Homo sapiens: one gene and its partners. The protein of the gene in region 2 purifies or fractionates together with the protein of the main gene of each other region. This does not show direct contact. Each region holds a gene or a part of one and is shown on either strand. Other genes may lie near its edges.

Region 1 (4,804 bases), about 100 Mb from region 2:
CTAGGCGGAAACCTTGAAAGGATAGTAGTACATACTGGCTAGAAAGGAATTGAGGGAAGAAGGGATTCCAAATAAAGGGAACTTTGATCCAGGTTGGTAGGGAGAGCAGGAGTGCTTGAGACAGAGAGGGAAAAATAGAACCCGTAGCATGGTTGTAGTTAAAATGGAATTAGTCGTAAGAGATGGCAGGAGTTTATGGAAAGGGCTAGAAACTGTGCTAAAGAGTTTGTTTTATCCTGAAACGGAGAACTGTTAAAAACCTTTAAAGTGCATTGGCCTTTTGATTGTCTTTCCCAAGTAATGACAATCATCATTTTGTTCTGGTGTATTATATTTTTCCTTCCTGCCTTTAATTATTTATTTGTGCTTTCATCGATCAAAAATTTCCTTTGCACTAGGCACTATACAAGGTACTGGAGATATAATGGAGAGACAGCCAAATGAGTTTCCCAAGCAAATAGGGATGTAAGCCATGAAGAGAATAAAACAGAGTTCTGTGATGATTGGAGGGTTGGTGCTATATAGGCTAGGTGATGAGAGATGTCACCTCTTTGAGCTGAGATGAATAACAAGATGGTGCTATCTATGGTAAGAGCTGGAGGCAGAGGAAACAGCAAATACAAGTCTTGAGTTGGTAATGAACTTGTGTTTGTGGAATCAAAGACCGATGGCTAGAGTCTGGTGAGGGATGGAGGGGAGTTAAGGGAAATGAGTCTAACAGCAGGATTCAGAATCACAGGACATTATGGTCCATGACATAGTTTAGGTTTTACTCTGATTGCTGTGGCAGACCAGTGGAGGGGCTTAAGCAGGGGGATGAGGTGCCAAGATTTGCATATTTAAGCTTACTACTCTATGTAGAGAATGACTGTTTTATGGAGAATAGATTGTAGCGGGCAAGAGCAGAAGGAGAAAAACCATCTGGATTTACTTCACTAGTCTAGGTAAGAGATGATGGAGGCTTATTCTCGAAAGTGCTAGCCGAAGTCAAGATAAGGACAGAGGTTGATAGATTTGGAATATATTTTGGAGGTAGAATTGATAGGACTGGGTTGGCTGTGGGACATAGGGAAAGGAAGAAATCAGGAAATACCCTAAGATTCATGTTAATGCAGTTGTATAGTTGGTAATGCTATTTATTTGCTAAAGTGGGGGTGACCTGATGGATGTCACCATGGGGAGTGGTGGGAATCAGAAATTGTGTTTTGGATGTTAGATTTAAGACATGAATTAGACATCAAAGTGGACGTTAGATTAGGCAGTTGGATAAAGTAGTTTGCAACTCTAGAGAGACCGGTGCTGAAGCTTGCAGTGGTATTTGAATCCATGAAGCCATGGGACTAGATGAGTTCACAGAGAGAGAATGATGGTAAAGAAGAGCACAGAGGCCGTGAGGTCTGAGCCCTGGACAAGCTCAACATTTAGAGTTTGAGTAAGGGAAGAAAGATCCTACAGTGAGGAAACAGGAAAACCAGAGTGTGGTAGGAGACAGAAGAGAATGTTTAAAGGAGGATGGTGGTCAACTGTAGTGAATTCTGCTTGGAAGTAAAGATTAGGATGGAAAAGGAATCACAGAAGCAGCAGAGAGGTCATTGTTGAGCTCAACATGCAGTTTCAGTGGCATGGTTAGCTTGGAAGCTGACAGAAGTAGGTTTAGGAGAGAACGGGTTGTGAGAAAGTGGGGAAAGACTCACTAGAAAATTTTTGAGAAACATTTGTAAAGATTTATTTTAACTATTTTTTAAAACCCCATGTATACATACAGCTATTTGAAGGGTAGAGGGACTCGAAATGAATTTTCATAACATCCATATTCTAGAACTCCTAGATTTGAGCTTGTAAAGTCTCATATTTCTCTGTCTTGACATTTATGTCATCCAACAAAAATTGGTGACAACGCTAAATAAGGTAGGGACATAACGGATTTTTTTTTTTTTTTTTTAAGAGACAGGGTCTGACTCTGTCCTCCAGGCTGGAGTGCAGTGGCGCCATCATGGCTCACTGCAGCCTCCACCTCCTGGGTTCAAGTGATCCTCCCACCTCAGTCTCCCAAGTAGCTGGGACAGCACCGCCACACCTAGTTCATTTTTAAATGTGTTTGTAGAGATTGGTTTCACCATGTTACCAATGGTCCCGAACTTCTGGCTGGTCCTAAACTCCTAGGCTCAAGTGATCCTCCTGCCTCTGCCTCATCCTCCTAAAGTGCTGAGATTATAGGCATGAGACACTGCACCCAGCCATAATTGATTTTTTTTTTTTTTTTTTTTTTTTGAGATGGAATCTTGCTCTTTTGCCCAGGCTGGAGTGCAATGGCATGATCTCGGCTCACTGCAGCCTTGGCCTCCTGGGTTCAAGTGATTCTCCTGCCTCAGCCTCCCAAGTAGCTGGGACTACAGGTGCGTGCCATCATGCCCAGCTAATATTTTTTATTTTTTTATTTTTTGTATTTTTAATAGAGACAAGGTTTCACCATATTAGCCAGGATGGTCTTGATCTTCTGACCTCGTGAACCGCCCACCTCGCCCTCCCAAAGTGCTTGGGTTACAGGCGTGAGCACTTTTTTTTGAGACAGAGTCTGGCTCTGTTGCCCGGGCTGGAGTGCAGTGGCACGATCTTGGCTCACTGCAACCTCTGCCTCCCAGGTTCAAACGATTCTCCTGCCTCAGCCTCCTGAGTAGCTGGGATTACAGGCGCCCGCCACCACACCCAGCTAATTTTTTGTATTTTTGGTAGAGATGGGGGTCTCACCATGTTGGTCAGGCTGGTCTCGAACTCCTGACCTCAAGTGATCCAGCTGCCTCAGCCTTCCAAAGTGCTGGGATTACAGGTGTGAGCCACTGCACCCAGCCCATAATTGATTTTTAGGATGTCACTTGGTGGTGTAAATAAGAAGCTTCCAGAGGGTATAAACTCTAGCAGAGTATCTAGCAGCTATTTATTTTTCTTTCATAAATTTCATTTCAGTATGTGAAAAATCCTTTTTCCCCCATAGTTTTATGATTTTTTTTTTACTTTAGATGTTGTTATCATAGATTCTAGCTTTCCTTATATAATACAAATATATATTATTGATTCTAAGTCAAATTTTTTTAGAATTTTAATATCTGACAGTTGGGATGTGACTTAGAAATAAGTGGTGTCTTAAATTAGATGATATGCAGTGTGATGTGAATATATAAAATATGTGATGTCAGTGAATATATGTGTATATATACATGCACGTGCATACATTGATTGGGAGCTGGCCTACTATTAGATAGATTTGAAATTGGTATTCACGAGTAGACTAGTTTCCTAAAGTGTATGGGATTATCATAGATCTGCTGTTGGACCCCTGTATGTTTTGCTGTGATTATCAGTGTTTTCCTTAGAGACCATTGGGGCAAAAGAGATAGGAGTGAAAGGAAAACTCAACTAGCACAATTTTAGCCTCTTATTTATTTTGATGTCCTTTCTTCAATGAATATTTATGGTAAATGTAATAACTCTTTTACAAGAATTTAAATGTGTGTTTTCATTTGAAGTCTTCCCCCATTTCCTTTCTTTACCTCTTAAGAACAGCATTCACGTGGCTACAACAGTAGGATTTTGTATGAGAGCCCATAGTTTTGTTGTCAGTATTAACGATCCCACTTTTTTTCCCTCAAGGAAATGCCTTCTGGTTCCTTTGCCACTATTGTTTAGACGTCTTATTTTGGATTTTTCTTCTAAAACTTTCCTGGAATGAAAAACTGTTGTGGTTGAAAAGATCTTTATTTTATCTGGTATATTTATCCCTTGTAAGTCCAACTAGAATTCCACATTTTAAATATTATTCTTATAGGGCATTTTACATTGAATAATGATGAATGTTTTTAGCCTTACATAAAAATATGTATTTGTACAGTTGTGCAGCTATTCAGTACAGGTTGCAGTTTCATAGAAATTCATTTCTAGTTTGGTTGTCAGGTGAGAATGTTGCTATAGCTTAGGTAGTACTACTTTCTTCACATCTTTATAAATGTGTTTTAGGTAACTACTGTCAAGCACAGGGTTGCAGAATATATTTAATATAGATTTTTTATATGGTGTTCTTATGATGTAAACTTATAGCTTTGTCTTGGAATATTTTATTCAGATACATTTTCAGAACCTCTTTTCTTGATCACCACTGTTATTTCTCTGATCTTTGGAAGACCAAATTCAAAGTATATAGAATCTTCAGTACATTAGACTATTTTGGAAGGTAGGGAATTCATTTCAGTAGCTGGTTATAAAGCTTAAGTTTTCTTGTTTTTATTTTCATTCTTTCCATATCCAGAAAAGAAATCAATAAAATTCAGTCTTTGTAGCAGCATAGAATTCCATCATTTGTAGTATTGATCCTAATTTTGATCAGTAGTTTATGAAGTTGGTTCTTGCTGTATTTCTGTATCCTGGGATACCACTTATAGAGGATTATGATGCATAAGTAGAACGTAATTTAAAAATAATATTGGAGAAGGAAAGTAGTGGTAAGGAGTGGTCCTCATCAGATCTGAGTTTGAGGTTTTGTTTGGTTTAATATAATCTTCTATTTTATATTTAACACACTTCACCAGAATTCTTTATTTTCATTTAATACTGATGCTCATGATTCTACAACTGCTTTTATAGTTCCGTTTGAGTTCAGCAGTATTCTGAGGTGCAAAGTCAGGTTTAGCTTTAAATCTTATTTAAAAAGTGTTAGGCTTTCATAAGCTTATGCAGTCTCACCTTGTATATTCCCAGCTATCAGTAATGTTTTTTCCTGGATTTTCTTCTCAGCAACCCGATAGCAGAAGGG
Region 2 (5,253 bases):
AAGCTGGAGTTCAGTGGTGTGATCTTGGCTCATTGCAACCTTGACCTTCTGGGCTCAAGGCATCCTCCCACCTCAGCCACCCAAGTAGCTGAGACTACAGGCATGTGCCACCATGCCCGGCTAATTTTTTTTCATTTTCTGTACAGACGAAGTCTCACTATGTTGCCCAGGCTGGTCTTGAACTCCCTGGGCTCAAGTGATCCTCCTGCCTCGCCTTCCCAAAGTACTGGAATTACAGGCATGAGCCACTGCACCCAGCCTTCAAAAGTTAGTATTACATATTGGCTTACTTTTATTCAGTAGAATAAACATTCTGGAGTTTTTTGTGTTTTAAAATGTGATGCTACCTAATTTTATCATTGAAGTTAACATGAAATAAGAGATGTGACACAATATACCCCAAATATATTATATGGGTTTCCCTTTTCTCTGATACTTTTTAGCAATACTGGTTAAATGCAACATATTTTCTTGCAAATAGGTCCACAGATGCCAAAACTTTGAATCACATATTATGGATAAAATGTGATAATGCATTTTCAACTTTAAAAAAGAAAATATAGGCCAGTAGTGGTGGCTCAGGCCTGTAATCCCAGCACTTTGGGAGGCCGAGGCGGACGGGTCACGAGGTCAGGAGATCAAGACCATCCTGGCCAACAAGGCGAAACCCTGTCTCTACTAAAAAAAATACAAAAAATCAGCCAGATGTGGTAGCGAGCGCCTGCAGTCCCAGCCACTCGGGAGGCTGAGGCAGGAGAATGGCGTGAACCCGGAAGGCGGAGCTTGCAGTGAGCCCAGATCACGCCACTGCAGTCCAGCTTCGGCGACAGAGCGAGACTCCGTCTCAAAAAAAGAAAAAATAATACAAATATGTACCATTTATGAAGAAAATATATATCACCAGGAAGAGAATACATAGTCAACTTGTAAAATGTAAAAACTACCTTTATGTTAAAAGCCAGGTGCCGTGGTGCGTGCCTGTAATCTCAGCGCTTTGAAAGGCTGAGGCAGGAAAATCTCTTGAGGCCAGGGGTTTGAGAGTAGCTTGGGCAACATAGCAAGACCCCCAGTCTCCACAAAAAAATAAAATAGAAAACTAGCCAGGCGTTGTGGTGTGTGCCTGTAGTCCCAGGTACTAGGGAAGCTGAGGCAGGGGGATTGCTTGAGCCCTGGAGATCAAGGCTGCAGTGAGCTATCATGGTGCCCCTGCACTGCAGCCTGGGTGACAAAGTGATACTGTGTCCCTAAGGAAAAAAAAAAAAAGCTTTAAAGAAAAACAGTTCTTCATTTTCATGTCTACTACACAGAAATTGTTTTTCTGTGGCTTAATTTGAGCTATTTTCAGATACAGCAATGAAAAAGAAGAGTCTACATTGTTCTACATACTGATTGTCACTATGTTCAATTTACTAACCACTAGAAAGATCCTGGAAATTTAACCCTCTCCTCCATCTTTGTGAAGATATTTATAAAATCACCTGCTAGCTCTGTGCACCCATTTATACTTCATCAGATGTTTATTAAGTTTTTCTTAGAGATAATTTCCTACAGTGAAGGGCTGTTTTAAAATGAATGGGCTCACCTATTAGGTTTGAAATGCCCTAGCCTTGTGGTGGACTGGTTGTATCAGTGAAGTTATTTAAAGAATTTCTAGGCCACTGACTCAGCAGTCACTAGAGGATATAGTAGTTGTTTAATAAAGCCCATGTACGTCCATTACAGCTTGTAACAGGTTTGCACAGCATGCAGAAGAAAAATAAAACATTAATTAGCTTTAATTCCACAAGTAAAACAATGTGAAAAACAATAACCAACAGCCAAAAGAATGTTTCCTTATAAATCAAACAGGATGATTTATTTGGCTAGATTTCTAATAAAGAGGAATTCTCAGCTTTTATCTCATGGTTTCCCACCATTCACCAAAGACTGCTTTGTTAAAATGTTTTTGTTAACTAATATGAATAATAGTATGGCTGGTCTTTCATTTAAGGTTAAAAAAACGGAACACACAAAACACAAATGAGTGGGGAACTTTTCCGGAGAGAGAAAAGAAAGGTGAAAAAGACAGGCAGAATGACGAGGAAGCATCCTGTGAGTGATGCCATGCTGGAAATGAGGCTTTAGGACTGCCATGCTTGGCAAATTGCAGTTTTCATGATGACGCCTGTTTGCCAAATACCTCTTTCAAGGGAAGCATTTCCAGCCTAACATTTGTCAAACCTCTTTTGTTAACTTGTTGACAAGAGTTAACTTGTCAGCTTTTAAAATGGCTTGCAGTTGGTATCCACGTTCCTTGATGGAAATGTGCAAAGTGTGAGTTACCCCCTTTCACAAAGAATCTTGTCAAGGGTGCTGACTTCAACTTGACTGCCTCTCCTGGGGGAAAAAAATCTACCTTCTGGAAACTTAAGTGATGAGTATTCCATCATAATTCTGCTTCAAAGAAATAAAAGAGGTCGAAGAGACAACCACCATCAAATAAAGAGTTAACAGGTAATTGTATAACTCAGCGACAGTTTAAAAACACAGTGGAGCATGTAGGATGTAAGCTTCAACGACCCAACCAAGCTCATAATTTCATGTTAACCGGCAACTCAGTGACATCAGCCAACAAGTTCCCCTGTGGAAGGCACGAAAGATGAAGAGACAGCAGCTTCCACCTGAGACATGATGAAGGGGCCGTGATTAATGCCCAGAATGTTACTCCAAAGAGCAATCTCTGAAGAACTATACCTCACCATCCTACCAGCCACACCCCTCCTGCTTAATGGAACAAGTTCCCATCTTCATGAAGCTAAGTCATCTCCAAGTATTTTAATTCTGTTGACACACTGAATTCATTGTTTTCTTTCAAGTATCCATGTCTCCTCTTGGAGTCCATTAGAGCCTATAAATCAGATCATCCATCCTCTCTGCCCTAGACTCAGAAGAACTTGAGGACGTGCTCTGAGGAAGGTCACTGTGAACGCCGATCATAGACATGAATGAAAAGAAAACATTCCGGTAAGTTTTTTAGTTCTTTATTCCTCTCATTTAGGTAATGGGTTAACTGGTTAGAAAAAAGCGGTTGGGGTGGGGGAAGGAGGAGGAGGTTCATAGGCGTTTTAAGTGCCAAAACCAAAAGTATGTTTTCATGGTAGTTTAAAGATAGACAAATACACATCCGCAACACACAGACACTGATAAATATATAAGTAAGGATTCTTTTTAATAAAGGGGAAGTATGCGGCTTAAACAACAGAGACAAAGAAGTGAAAATTAGGAACTATAATAAGTTTTAGACTAGAAGATCAAAAACTAAGGCAATGAATGTGAAATTTGCTTTTTTAAAAAAACTATGAGTATCATGAATAAACTGCCTCCCCTGAAGGCTGCCACATGTAAAACGTTTTTAAAAAGTAGCCAAATACCTGCTAATTCGCATAATATTTTTCAGATAGGATACTAAAAATCCCCTAATTATGAAATGGCTGCTTCACACAAAGAGTTGAGTTGGGTTCTAATTGTATGAGGATATACTTAATATAATACAGATCTATTCATATAAAGGAGGCCCTTAATTTTGAAAATCAGTTTGTGTTAATCTGGTGAAACACAATAGCGGCATTTTTGTGCAGTTTTTTTTTTTTTTTTAATGATTAAGAGTTTGACTTATTGTCTTATCAGCTAACAGTCCATATTTTGGGCTAGTATGTTTGACAAAGGGGTGACGACAGCTGCTACAGGAGAATGACAGAAGGACAAAAAAACTGAAATACACAAAGTAACCAACCTTCTTCTCCTTCCCAAGGAGGACAGAAGAGAACTCACAGCAGGCCCCTGCCCTAGCATAGCTCATGTACCTTGTGACCTCCCAGCAGAGCATCATGTAGATGCCCCTAAAAGCAGCTGTTATGGAACCAGCTGGTCCCCGTGGAAAGGAGGCAATGGCTCTCCGGTGCTTACTGAAGCTGCTGCTTCTTTTTTTTTTTTTTTTTTTTTTTTTTGTTTGAAACACAGTTTCACTATGTCACCCAGGCTGGAGTGCAGTGGCGCCATCTATCTCAACTCACTGCAACCTCCACCTCTCAGGTTCAAGCGATTCTCCTGCCTCAGCCTCCCAAGTAGCTGGGATTACAGGCACCCACCACCACACTCGGCTAATTTTTGTATTTTGAGTAGAAATGGGGTTTCACCATGTTGGAAAGGCTGGTCTTGAACTCCTGGCCTCAAGTGATTCACCCTCCTCATGGTGAATCACCCCACAATTCACCCCAAAGTGCTGGGATCATAGGCGTGAGCCACCGCACCCAGCCTACTGAAACTTTTTAATGTTGACTTAACTGCATAAAAGGTAATCCAAGGCTCCATGAGGAAATGAAACAGAAAAAGTTAGCAGACACATTGCTTAGACTACGCCAACCCCCCAAAATAGGATGCTAATAACAGACATAAAAACAGATATACCAATTATGTTATAGATACCTCTCATTTATCCAGAATCCTAACCACATTCAAATCAGTTAAAATAGTCTGTAACAGTGCAGAATGGTGATTAATTGCCTAATAATTACTTTGAGGTAATACAAAATCCAGAAACTCACAATTTAATCTTTTAAAATTAAAAGCACTTTCATATGCAATGTATTCTCATCCTCTATAAATTATAAAGTGATCTATGGAAAACTAAAAATTGTTAACCAGAATAATAAACAGAGAATTTCCTCTAATTCCAGATGGCTAGGAGTTTGTTCATGCATTTTTCTGTATACTATCATATACAGAATGACTTTTTTCAAGATACCATACAAACCAAGCTCTAAATAGCTTCCTGTTTACTAAGAAAAAATTAGAGCCCCATCTAAAACTCACGATAGCAATGATTAACAATTTACAAAGAAGAAGATAAACAATCATCTGCTAATTTGTGACTATATTTTCACACATTTTCATAATTAACTAATTTCTAAGGGTGAGCTACATTCGTATTTTTTTAAAAAAAATTGAATCTGTAATAACTGTACATATCTATATGGCTTATGAAACAATTAATACACATCCTATACCTATCTCATTTTATCCTTAAGGTAAGTCTTTAGACTTATACTGTAAGTGTCATAGTATTGTCTAAAGTAATCTAAACCACGCTTTACATTGCTTTTATATAGGAGGATACGGTATCATTTTGGCAATTTTAGTGTATTTCATTTTAAGGCCATTGTTCTTTTTTCTTTTTTTTGGGATGGAATATTGCTCTGTCGCCCAGGCTGGAGT
Region 3 (5,059 bases), about 14 Mb from region 2:
ACAGCGCTCACGCAGAAGCCAGTCCTTGCTGACCACGCCTGCCTTCCTCTCAGATACCTCGGCACTGGGAAGAGCACACACGGCCTGGCCATCCTCGGACCCGAGAACCCGAAAATTGCCAAGGACCCATCCTGGATCATCCAATGAGCAGCCGTGGCGCTCGACTGCACAGGAGCCCGAGACAATACACCTCCGAGCTGAATATGAAAAGTCAGAAATGCTACTGCTTTTTCCAAGAATATTATGTCATTGAGTGTCGCCAAAGCCCTTGACTGGCGAGTCAAAAACTCAGATCTATCTTAAGAGTGACCAGGAAGAGGTTCATTGAAATAATCATGCATGAAGCGCCAAAGATGCACCATGTAGAATTTTCACTTTGTACTGGCAGGCTCGTTTTACCTCATTCTAGAATATTTAAGAATCTAAAAATAAAGGGCAACTCTGACTTAACCTCTGCTTGAGTCATTATTTTAAGCAGCATTTAGGGCCTTTATTTAAAAACAGAAGTAAAATGAAAAGGTGCACAAGGGTGTCCCACGTCTGCCTGCGCTGATTCAGGAAACTCCATCACACCGAGGCCCTGGGGGAGTGTCCACCAGACGGGAGTTCACCGCGGCGGCTGCATGGAAACCGTCCTGAGAAGCAAGTGGGTTGGGGTGAGTAAGCGCTTGCTTCATCGTTACAGAGCCAGAAAGGAAAGCCTCCGCGCTAGCTCTTTCTTGGCTGTCGGACTCTGATTTCCCAAACAGAGTTTGTTTTTGGCCTCTCCTCTCCCTCCACCCAGCTCTCTGCCCCCATTTCTGAGGCGCAGCTGTTCTCTCTTGCAGACTAGAGCTAAGAGGCAGAAACGCTGTCCCTACAGGAGGGGGGCCCACCAGGGCAGCAGGGCTGTCATCCCAGCAGCCGTGTCTACTCTGGCAGGAGTCTTCCGGAGAGTTCCAACCTAGGTCCCAGCGAGGACTGTGGCTTGGCCTGGAGGAGAAGCTGGCTATCAGATTTTTGAACCCACCTCCGCCCCACCCACCCCTTGGTGGTTTTAACATGCAGCTAGGATTGCAATCAAGAGGACAAGTAACTAAGATTCATGTTTTACTTTCAAAGGAGAGCAGGAGCCTGGGGTCGAGGCCCAGGGTCCCGGCCTGCTGCTGTGGATGGAAACTGACACATGGCAGATATGGAATGGTGAGTAAACGTGGCCTTCCCCTTGGCCTGTGTGAACTCCTGGCTTTGTTCTCCTTGTATGACGTGTGCATAGTTCAGTGATCCCTATAAAAATATTTTGCTAATCTTTGCCCACAAAACTGAGAAAACCTTTAGTAGCCACCCATAGATTGAGGTACTAATCTCCTACTTAAAAAACTAAAACAGAGGACTGTTGGAGTCATAGGCAAATGTTTAATTAATTCTGCTCATATGCACATCTGAAAGCATGAGACACACTCCACAGACAGCACGCACTGGAGCAGGTGGGGCAGATGGGCACTCGCCGATTAGGTATTAATGTCAATAATACGTGCATAAAGTGCTGATAAAATAACTTAAGTGTTACAAAAACAGACAGTCCACGGTGGCTGCAGGCACATGCAGGCGGGACTGGGTCAGACACTCCAGGGCTGCACATGTTCCAGCTGGCCTGAGTCCGACACGTCATAGCTGGCCTTGTACTTGGCCAGGATTTTCATGAGGGGCCGTAGCTTGAGCCACCACTGTTCTTTGGGAATCCTGTGCCTGTGGAGGTAAGAGGAGACAGCAGTGAGGCCTGCAGTCACTGGCGGGAGATGCCTCCGCCTGGCCAGCACAGCGAGCGGTCTTGCCAGAAACACAGGGTTTGTAGGGTCGGCTGAATCAACTAGATGATAAAGCCAATTTCAGGATCAAATGAAACCATTGTTTAAAATTATTCCCGAAGACCCAGTGGTGGAGTCTCGCTCTGTCGCCAGGCTTGAGTACAGTGGTGCAATCTCAGCTCACTGCAACCTCTGCCTCCCGGGTTCAAGCGATTTCTCCTGCCTCAGCCTCCTGAGTAGCTGGGACTACAGGTGTGCATCACCATGCCTGGCTCATTTTTGTATTTTTAGTAGAGATGGGGTTTCACCATATGAGCCAGGTTGGTCTCGATCTCTTGACCTTGTGATCCACCTGTCTCGGCCTCCCACAGTGCTGGGATTATAGGCATGAGCCACCGCGCCCAGCCAAGACCTAGTATTTTTTTAACTGAGCTTCAGAAAAGCCAGTTCCTCAAACCCCTGAATGAGTTGCCGACAGCAACAGCAATGGCCATTCCCCTGTCCCGTACTCACATTGGGGTCTTATTGCCTCAGGGAACCCAGCCAACTTACTCAAAATCCGTTTGCTTCTTCAGCTCTGCCACAGGTTGAAAAATAACGTTTCTTTTGCTTATTCCCAGCACACAAATGGAATCATCGGTGGTAAATTTTTTTCCTATAAAAGATTTTAAAAAAGATTAATAACACCCTGTCAACATGGGCAGGTGGGGGAGCAGAATCACGGGGCGAGATGAGAACTGAGATTCCTCAGAACCATGCTGAACCCGGCCTGGAAGCCCAGTGAGACTGAGAACAGCCGCGCAGTGGGGCCAGCACCTGGCCTCGTGCAGCTCTGCTCCTGTGGGACTGCCCCGAGGGCTTCCTGGAAAGCAGCTTTTGTTTTTTCCTCCCAGTGGAGAGAATTTTTCACTAAATAGTGGAATAGGGAAATTAGCTTAAATTACAGGACACTAATTTATGCTCACACATACACACACTGAGAGGCAAAAAGCATCCATAGCTAAATTAGCAAAAGAAAATCGCTGTAGAAAGAATCAAAGCCAAAGTCAGTTCTTCAAAAAGACAAACCCATTGAAACTATTCACATCACTGGTTTTTATAGACTGTCATTTTTCTAAGTTGGACACTGGCAGTGATAGTGGTTTGCCGGAATAAAAGCACACATCTGCTATGACTGATTAAGAAAGCTGAGGGGGGTGGGGGTGAGAAAGATGCTGGCACAAAGAGCCACTCAGGAATGAGTGGGGAACAGCCATGTTGGAGCCATTAACAAGAGTATTATAAAAAAGTCATGTTTCTTGAAACTTCAGTTTAAAGATTTCTTAGAATATGTAACTTACAGAACTGATTTAAGGAAGAACATGCACAGTTCTACGAACATGCAGTTCTACAAACATGAACAATTCATTCAGCAGTCAGATCTTCCTCAAAACTGGAAGTTTTGATGGATAGTCACAAGGAGGTTGTCCTAGCAAACATTCAAAAAATAGAAGGCCCCACTTAAACTGTGAGGGGAAATTGCTGGCCAACGTTCAGGATCTCTAGAGCAAAAAGCCTGCACAAAAGAACTGCAGACTGCATCTAGCAGTGATAAAAGAGAACATGTCATACCCAAGCTGATCTTATCCCAGGAATCCAAGGTTGGTTAAATAGCAACACTCAGAGATCAGGAGTAAAACATCACGTGCAGCTCAGTACTGAACTGAAGAAGGAACCAGCACCCTACTTCTCCCCGATAGGACAGCATTTTCACCAAGGCAGGACGGCCTGCATCACGAGGCTGTGGCCTCCCTCCCCAGACCCCTTACCTCTGCCCCGGGCCTCCTTGAGTTTTGCAGTGATCCACTCCATAGCTCTGGCAGAGATTTTGGTTCCAAAGTTTCTATCAAATGGAGAGGGTGCCCCACCCTGTTGGTGGTTAGAGTTATATGAAATACCAGTTATACAGTAACACTTTGCTGTTAAATAGAAATGACAATTTCTATTTTGCAGAATTCATGTTTTTATTTCTAGGTCCTTATAGTTGGAACAGAACAAAACCTGTGATTCCCGTAGCCTGAACTTGGCCTGTTAAGAAAAAGTATCAAGTGTTCCCCCCGCTCAGTAAGATGAGGATTTTAATAAACCGAACAAGTCAACTAACAATCTTCATTATTTTAAAATCTTAAATCAGGATTTCATGAACTCATCTGAGCTGGGGATGGGTCACAGCTTTAATCTGATAACCGTTGTGGATTCTTTAAGAAGATCACACATATGCCTACTATTTCATCATCATTGCAGGGGATTCATGGGCTCTGGCTTAAAAGTATAAGAATAGGAGGTGGTGAGGAAGGAGTGTGTGCAAGTTAGGAGGCCTGGACCCTGTGTCCCAGGCTCAGCTCATAACACGTGTGTGCCTGTGTGCAGCTCATTCCAGGTCATTCTGACTTGGGGTGTCAAGTATACTACATGTCTGATAATCCATTTTAAATCTTAGGGAAGCTCCAGTTTTTAACTTGATGAAGTGTTTAATTTGAATAAGCATTTCCAAGTAATGGGGGTATCACTGTTTTCATGAAAGCTGACAGTTCCCTTAAAATCCCCATTACTCAAACCTCACCAACAAAAGAATCCTAAAGCTGGTGATGTTTGGCATCACTTAAAAGTTCAGATGTTTTGGCTGGGCACAGTGGCTCAGGCCTGTATTCCCACCACTTTGGGAGGCTGAGGTGGGTGAATCATCTGAGGTCAGGAGTTTGAGACCAGCCTGGCCAACGTGGTGAAACCCCATCTCTACTAAAAATACAAAAATTAGCTGGGTGTGGTGGTGGGTGCCTATACTGCCATCTCCTCGGGAGGCTGATGCAGGAGAATCACTTGAACCTGGAAGGTGGAGGTTGCAGTGAGCCAAGCTTGTACCACTGCACTCCAGCCTGGGCAACAGAGCAAGACTCTGTCTCAAAAAGTTCAGATGTTTTTTATCATCTTGGAATTTACTTATACATTTTTCCCCACAATGGCTAAAATAAGACACTAATCTTTTAAAAGTCACATGACAGGGGCTTTGTGGCCCCTCATGCAGTCTCGGGCCTACCTGCTGCATGTGACCCAGCACGTTCTTCCTGCAGTCAAACACGCCTTTGCCCTCTTCTGAATACAGCTGGTAAATGAAGTCGGTGGTGTAGTTTTCACTGCAGCTCTCATTTCTGAAACGAGCGAGAAGGAGTCACTTTGTTTAGCGTGCAGTGGGCACGTGGCTCCCTGCTTGGGGAGATGGCCCTGGGAGGCTG
Region 4 (4,804 bases), on a different chromosome or scaffold from region 2:
GCCTCACTCACCAAGCATTTCCCTCATGATGTCGCGGCAGTGACTGCTGGGTGGGATTCATCCTGGGAGGCAGAGCAGGCGGAGAGGTATTCCCAAAGGCACTGCACTCGAGTCCTGCCACCACCCGGCTGCAACCAGGCAGACGTTACCAGCTGGTTGCGTCACTCCCCAGCGAGCCTGATGCTCCCTCTCTGCCCAGTCTTCCAGGAATCCACTGGAGTTGACACTTGAGACAGAACCCACGTTCTCCCTTCCTAGCAAAAGGTGTGGGGTATCCGGTTCTTTGAAGGTCGTAGAGGCAGTTGGGGTGTTTAGGACTACATCCTGACCCTGTTTTTGAGTCTAAAAGGCCCCTCCTGGCTGTGCCGAAGGGCCCTGGGGCTGGACTGATTGCGGGCCTGGCTCACTGTGGGCTTTTCCCCTGTAGTTCGCATTTCACCCCTCCCAGAAGGAAACCCACCACTGACTCTGGGGACAGGCAGTGCCCAGTATGGATGAGATTTGCTCCCCCTCACCACACTCCCGTCTCGTCTCAAAGATTCATACTCTTGTCTTTTTTATTTATTTTTTATTTTGAGACAGGGTCTTGCTCTGTTGCCCAGGCCTGAGTGCAGTGGCACTCAGCCTCGGCCTCCCAGGCTCAAGCCATCCTCCCACTTCAGCCTCCAGAGTAGCTGAGACTACAGGCTTGCACCACCACACCTGGCTAATTTTTTTGTTTTCTTGTATTTTTATTAGAGATGGATTCTTGCCATATTGCCCAGGCTGGTCTCGAACTCCTGGGCTCAAGGGATCCGCCCACCTTGGCCTCCCACAGTGCTCTGGATGACAGGCTTGAGCCATTCTGCACACGCACCCAGCTACCCTCTTGCCTGCTCTGTGTTTGGGTGGTTATGTGTTTATTGGAGGCAGTCAGTTTGAAACTAACTCATGGTGCAGAGGATGGAACCATGGAAGACTGAGCAGTCTGGATTCAAGTGTGGACCCCGCTCTGCTGTGTGAGCTTGGGCAAGTTACTCAACCTCTTTGAGGCTTAGGTCCCTTTTCTGGAAGAGGCCATAATAATAGTAGCTGCAGTATTGCCCTGGGGATTAAATGAGAGTGTGAATACAGAGCCGCTCACCTGTGCTGGGTGGTGTTCTGTGTGCGAGACTCTCTGGTCCCTGAAGAAGGGGTAATAGGGGCCCAAGTGGGAGTTGACTGGGCCCCTGACACCCCAAGGGGTGGGCACTACAAGCACTGAGCAGCCTGGACCCTGGGTTAGAGCGATTTTCCTGATCCTGCAGAGCGTCTTCACTTTTTAATACGAGGTGTGTCTGTCGGGCGCAGGCCCCCGCGTGTGCCCCATCTGCACCCCTGACCAGCTCTGACTCACTCCTCCTGTCTCCTGCCCCCAGCAATATGTCGGACGCCTTGGCCAACGCCGTGTGCCAGCGCTGCCAGGCCCGCTTCTCCCCCGCCGAGCGCATTGTCAACAGCAATGGGGAGCTGTACCATGAGCACTGCTTCGTGTGTGCCCAGTGCTTCCGGCCCTTCCCCGAGGGGCTCTTCTATGAGGTGAGGACACTACTGAGGGCTTTCTCAGACCCAGCTCGGAGTCTGCCCTCTATGAGCGGGTGGGCCGGGCTCCATGCAGTGGTCCCGACTGGTGACAGGGCCAGGTCTGGAGCCAGCCCAGAACCAGGCTTGAGCTCCTGCACGGGCCCATCCTTCACCTGTGAGATGTGAACAGCACCCCAGGTGCCCTGGGTGCTAACAGAGAGCCACCTTTCACCAGCCTCCTCTGGGCAGATGCTGGGCAGGCCCTGGGGGCAGGAAGAGCCTGCCCTGGTGGTGCTTGCCCTCCCTGGGGACTAGACAGTGAGCACAGCAACCGCATGGCCCACCAGCTGGTGCTGATGCCCTGGGGGTCAGGGTTCCCGGGGTGGGGTGCGGTGGTGCTCAGGGAAGGTGAGGTTTGGGCACACCTGAGGGGAGGGAGACATACTGGGCAGAGGGCACCGCATATGCACATACCCTGTGGTGGGAGAACATGGGGTGTATGGAGAGCAGTAGGAAGACTGGTGTGATGGAAGCCGAGGGCATGAGAGGGAGAAGGCCAGGAGCTGAGGAAAGGGAGGTGGATCTCGCTTGGCCCCACGGGCCTCTACGGAGCCATAGGCTTCCCCTCTGCAAGAGGCAGGAGCCACCTCGGGGTGTGGAGCAGAGGAGTCACACTATCTGCTGACATTTGAAAAGGTGACCTGGCCGGGCGCGGCGGCTCACGCCTGTAATCCCAGCACTTTGGGAGGCGGAGGCAGATGGATCACCTGAGGTCAGGAGTTCAAGACCAGCCTGGCCAACATGGTGAAACCCTGTCTGTACTAAAAATACAAAAAATGAGCCTGGCATGGTGGCAGGTGCCTGTAATCCCAGCTACTCGGGAGGCTGAGGCAGGAGAATCACTTGAACCTGGGAGGCAGAGGTTGCAGTGAGCCGAGATCGCGCCATTGCACTCCAGCCTGTGGGACAGAGCAAGACTCCATCTAAAAAAAAAAAAAAAAAGAAAGAAAAAAAAAAGGAGGCTTGTGGCCGCTGTGCTGAGGAGAGGATGTAAGGCGGGGCAGGAACAGAGGCTGGGCCAGGAGGCTGGGGGGACCAGGAGCTGAATTAGTGCAATCACCCAGATGAAAGTGAAGGGGCCCCCACCAGCTCACAGGAGCAGTCGTTAAATCATCAACAATCTTGGGAGCTGGTTGGGCAACAGAGTTATTGTTTAAAAATTAAATTATATCAGCGTACAATGGGATACAATTTTATTAAAAACAAAGGTAACAAATACTCAAAGCATACCACTTGCTAATTATTTTGTTCCACTTTACTATCGTCTATGCTGATGGGGTTATTTCTGTCCATTGTGCTGGTGTGGCCACTGCACATCTCCCCTCAAGTCCACATCGATGTCATGTTGGCAGCCAGGAGTTGGCCATGACGGGAATATTCACACCATGGACACTGGCAAACGCCCCACAGCAGGGCCTGCCTCTGCGCCCCAGAGAGCTGGCTGTTGAGCATTTACCAGAACATCACTTGTGCTTGTGGTGGCGGTGGTGGCCAGGGGTCAGATGCTGGCTCTGTTTCAAGGTAGAGCTGATGGGACTGGCTGGTGGATGGATGTGGGGCCTGTGGTCCGCCTGGCAGAGCAAGAGCCGCTGTTCCTCACAGTGTCTTCAGCCTCCTGAGGAATGCTGTCTAAGTGTAGAGGCAGCGGGAGGGGTGGGCAAAGCTCTAGGAGGGGTGGCCATATGCCCAGAACAAAGCCTCTCTCTCTCACACACAGCAGGTGCCCAGAAGATTTTCATTGCTGAAAGAGTTTAAGCCCTTCCTGACTCTACAGGTCACTGGGTAGGGCTATATCCAGTTTAGTCTAATAAGACACTCATTTTAGAGAACAGGGAAAAACCAATTAAAAAACAGAAAATACAATTGTTAGAGGAAAGCAGAGGCAGGCTTTGGCCCCGCTTGTGGCCAGCACAGGGGCCCTCGCTGGCAGCTGCCGCCTGGAGGGTGTGCACACTGGCTCCTGCTGGCCGCAGCCCTGAGCTCTTCCCACTTCCCCGTGCCCAGGCCCTTCCTGCGTTCCCTTCCTTCTGTCTCCTATACCCGGGTCTTCATGGCCTCTGAGAGAGCTGGATACTCCCACAGAGAAGGTATACGAAATAGGACCAAGTGACACTACACTTCAGACTGGATCTCATCCCTCCTGGCTTAAAACCGCCTCGCCCCCAGCCTGTTCTCCGGACCAACAGGGTCCAGATCCTCAGTAGACACCAGTGGCCCTTTGACAGGTGGCCTCACGGACCTCTCCAGCTTCCACGGGGGCACCTCCCTTTGCACCCCACCATCCCAAAAGGGCCAGTGTCCTCTCTGGCCAGGCCTGGGACCCACTGCTCCAGCCTCAGCCCGGCATGCCCCTGCCTCAGTGCCTCATCCCCTGCTGTCAGGTCCTGACCCAACAAGGGCCTGGGCTGCTCATGGGGATGATAGGTGGTTTGCTTGTCCTCTCTCTGCGACCCCTTTGCAGTTTGAAGGCCGGAAGTACTGCGAACACGACTTCCAAATGCTGTTTGCTCCGTGCTGTGGATCCTGCGGTAAGGCCGGTGACAGTACACATCCTGGGCTGCCTGGGAAGTGGGCAGCAGTGGCGGGGGGCAGGGGGCCGAGGGGGTACACAGAACTGGCCCAGCTCTTTCCTAACTCCCCACCTTGCCTCTCTGAGCGGCAGCCGTCAGGCCCCCTACAGGCATCACCATCCCACGAGGGAGCCCATGGGCCAGGCAGAGAGCAGGCGGAGTGCTAGGTGGACAGGGCTTGGGAGGGTCCGAAGAGGGGACAGGCACGTGCTCCCCAGCCAGCAGGGACCTGTCTTCTTCCAGGTGAGTTCATCATTGGCCGCGTCATCAAGGCCATGAACAACAACTGGCACCCGGGCTGCTTCCGCTGCGAGCTGTGTGATGTGGAGCTGGCTGACCTGGGCTTTGTGAAGAATGCCGGCAGGTGAGGTGGCCGTGTTGGGCCAGAGAGGACTGGGCCACAGCCCTTCCTGGCACACCTGCCACCTCTCCTGTGTGCTACCCACTTGCTGAGGGCGCAGAAGGGTCCCGGTGCTGCAGCCTGCACTGATGTAGCTGCCCTCCCTCCAGGTCACCCCGGGGCGGATAGTCCAGCTCCCAGTTTACAGGGCCCCACGCTCAGCGAGCTCCTGGCAGCCTCTCGGGAGCCATGAGAAATCCTCACACTCTGCCACCCCCCTGGCCACCCCATC

Evidence for each region.
Region 1: the proteins of RSU1 (region 2) and TIAL1 fractionate together in Homo sapiens (co-fractionation; one large-scale study listed by BioGRID). This does not show direct contact.
Region 3: the proteins of RSU1 (region 2) and PFKP fractionate together in Homo sapiens (co-fractionation; one large-scale study listed by BioGRID). This does not show direct contact.
Region 4: the proteins of RSU1 (region 2) and LIMS2 purify together in Homo sapiens (affinity purification with mass spectrometry; one large-scale study listed by BioGRID and IntAct). This does not show direct contact.

The regions. Positions count from the first base shown.
Region 1 is NC_000010.11:119,582,590-119,587,393, reverse strand, and holds part of TIAL1 (nucleolysin TIAR), read left to right. Parts: intron 1-4,785; coding exon of another isoform or gene 4,786-4,804. UniProt on the Homo sapiens protein: RNA-binding protein involved in alternative pre-RNA splicing and in cytoplasmic stress granules formation. Shows a preference for uridine-rich RNAs.
Region 2 is NC_000010.11:16,687,763-16,693,015, forward strand, and holds part of RSU1 (ras suppressor protein 1), read right to left. Parts: intron 8-5,253; exon of another isoform or gene 1-7. UniProt on the Homo sapiens protein: Potentially plays a role in the Ras signal transduction pathway. Capable of suppressing v-Ras transformation in vitro.
Region 3 is NC_000010.11:3,133,119-3,138,177, reverse strand, and holds the end of PFKP (ATP-dependent 6-phosphofructokinase, platelet type), read right to left. Parts: intron 4,976-5,059; coding exon 4,864-4,975; intron 4,075-4,863; exon of another isoform or gene 3,880-4,074; intron 3,696-3,879; coding exon 3,596-3,695; intron 2,443-3,595; coding exon 2,340-2,442; intron 1,729-2,339; coding exon 1,599-1,728; 3' UTR 1,376-1,598; downstream 1-1,375. Other genes in the region: PITRM1 (presequence protease, mitochondrial isoform 1 precursor), read left to right, coding at 54-147. UniProt on the Homo sapiens protein: Catalyzes the phosphorylation of D-fructose 6-phosphate to fructose 1,6-bisphosphate by ATP, the first committing step of glycolysis.
Region 4 is NC_000002.12:127,654,156-127,658,959, reverse strand, and holds part of LIMS2 (LIM and senescent cell antigen-like-containing domain protein 2), read left to right. Parts: intron 1-743; exon of another isoform or gene 744-930; coding exon of another isoform or gene 931-998; intron 999-1,397; coding exon 1,398-1,557; intron 1,558-4,063; coding exon 4,064-4,130; intron 4,131-4,415; coding exon 4,416-4,536; intron 4,537-4,804. UniProt on the Homo sapiens protein: Adapter protein in a cytoplasmic complex linking beta-integrins to the actin cytoskeleton, bridges the complex to cell surface receptor tyrosine kinases and growth factor receptors. Plays a role in modulating cell spreading and migration.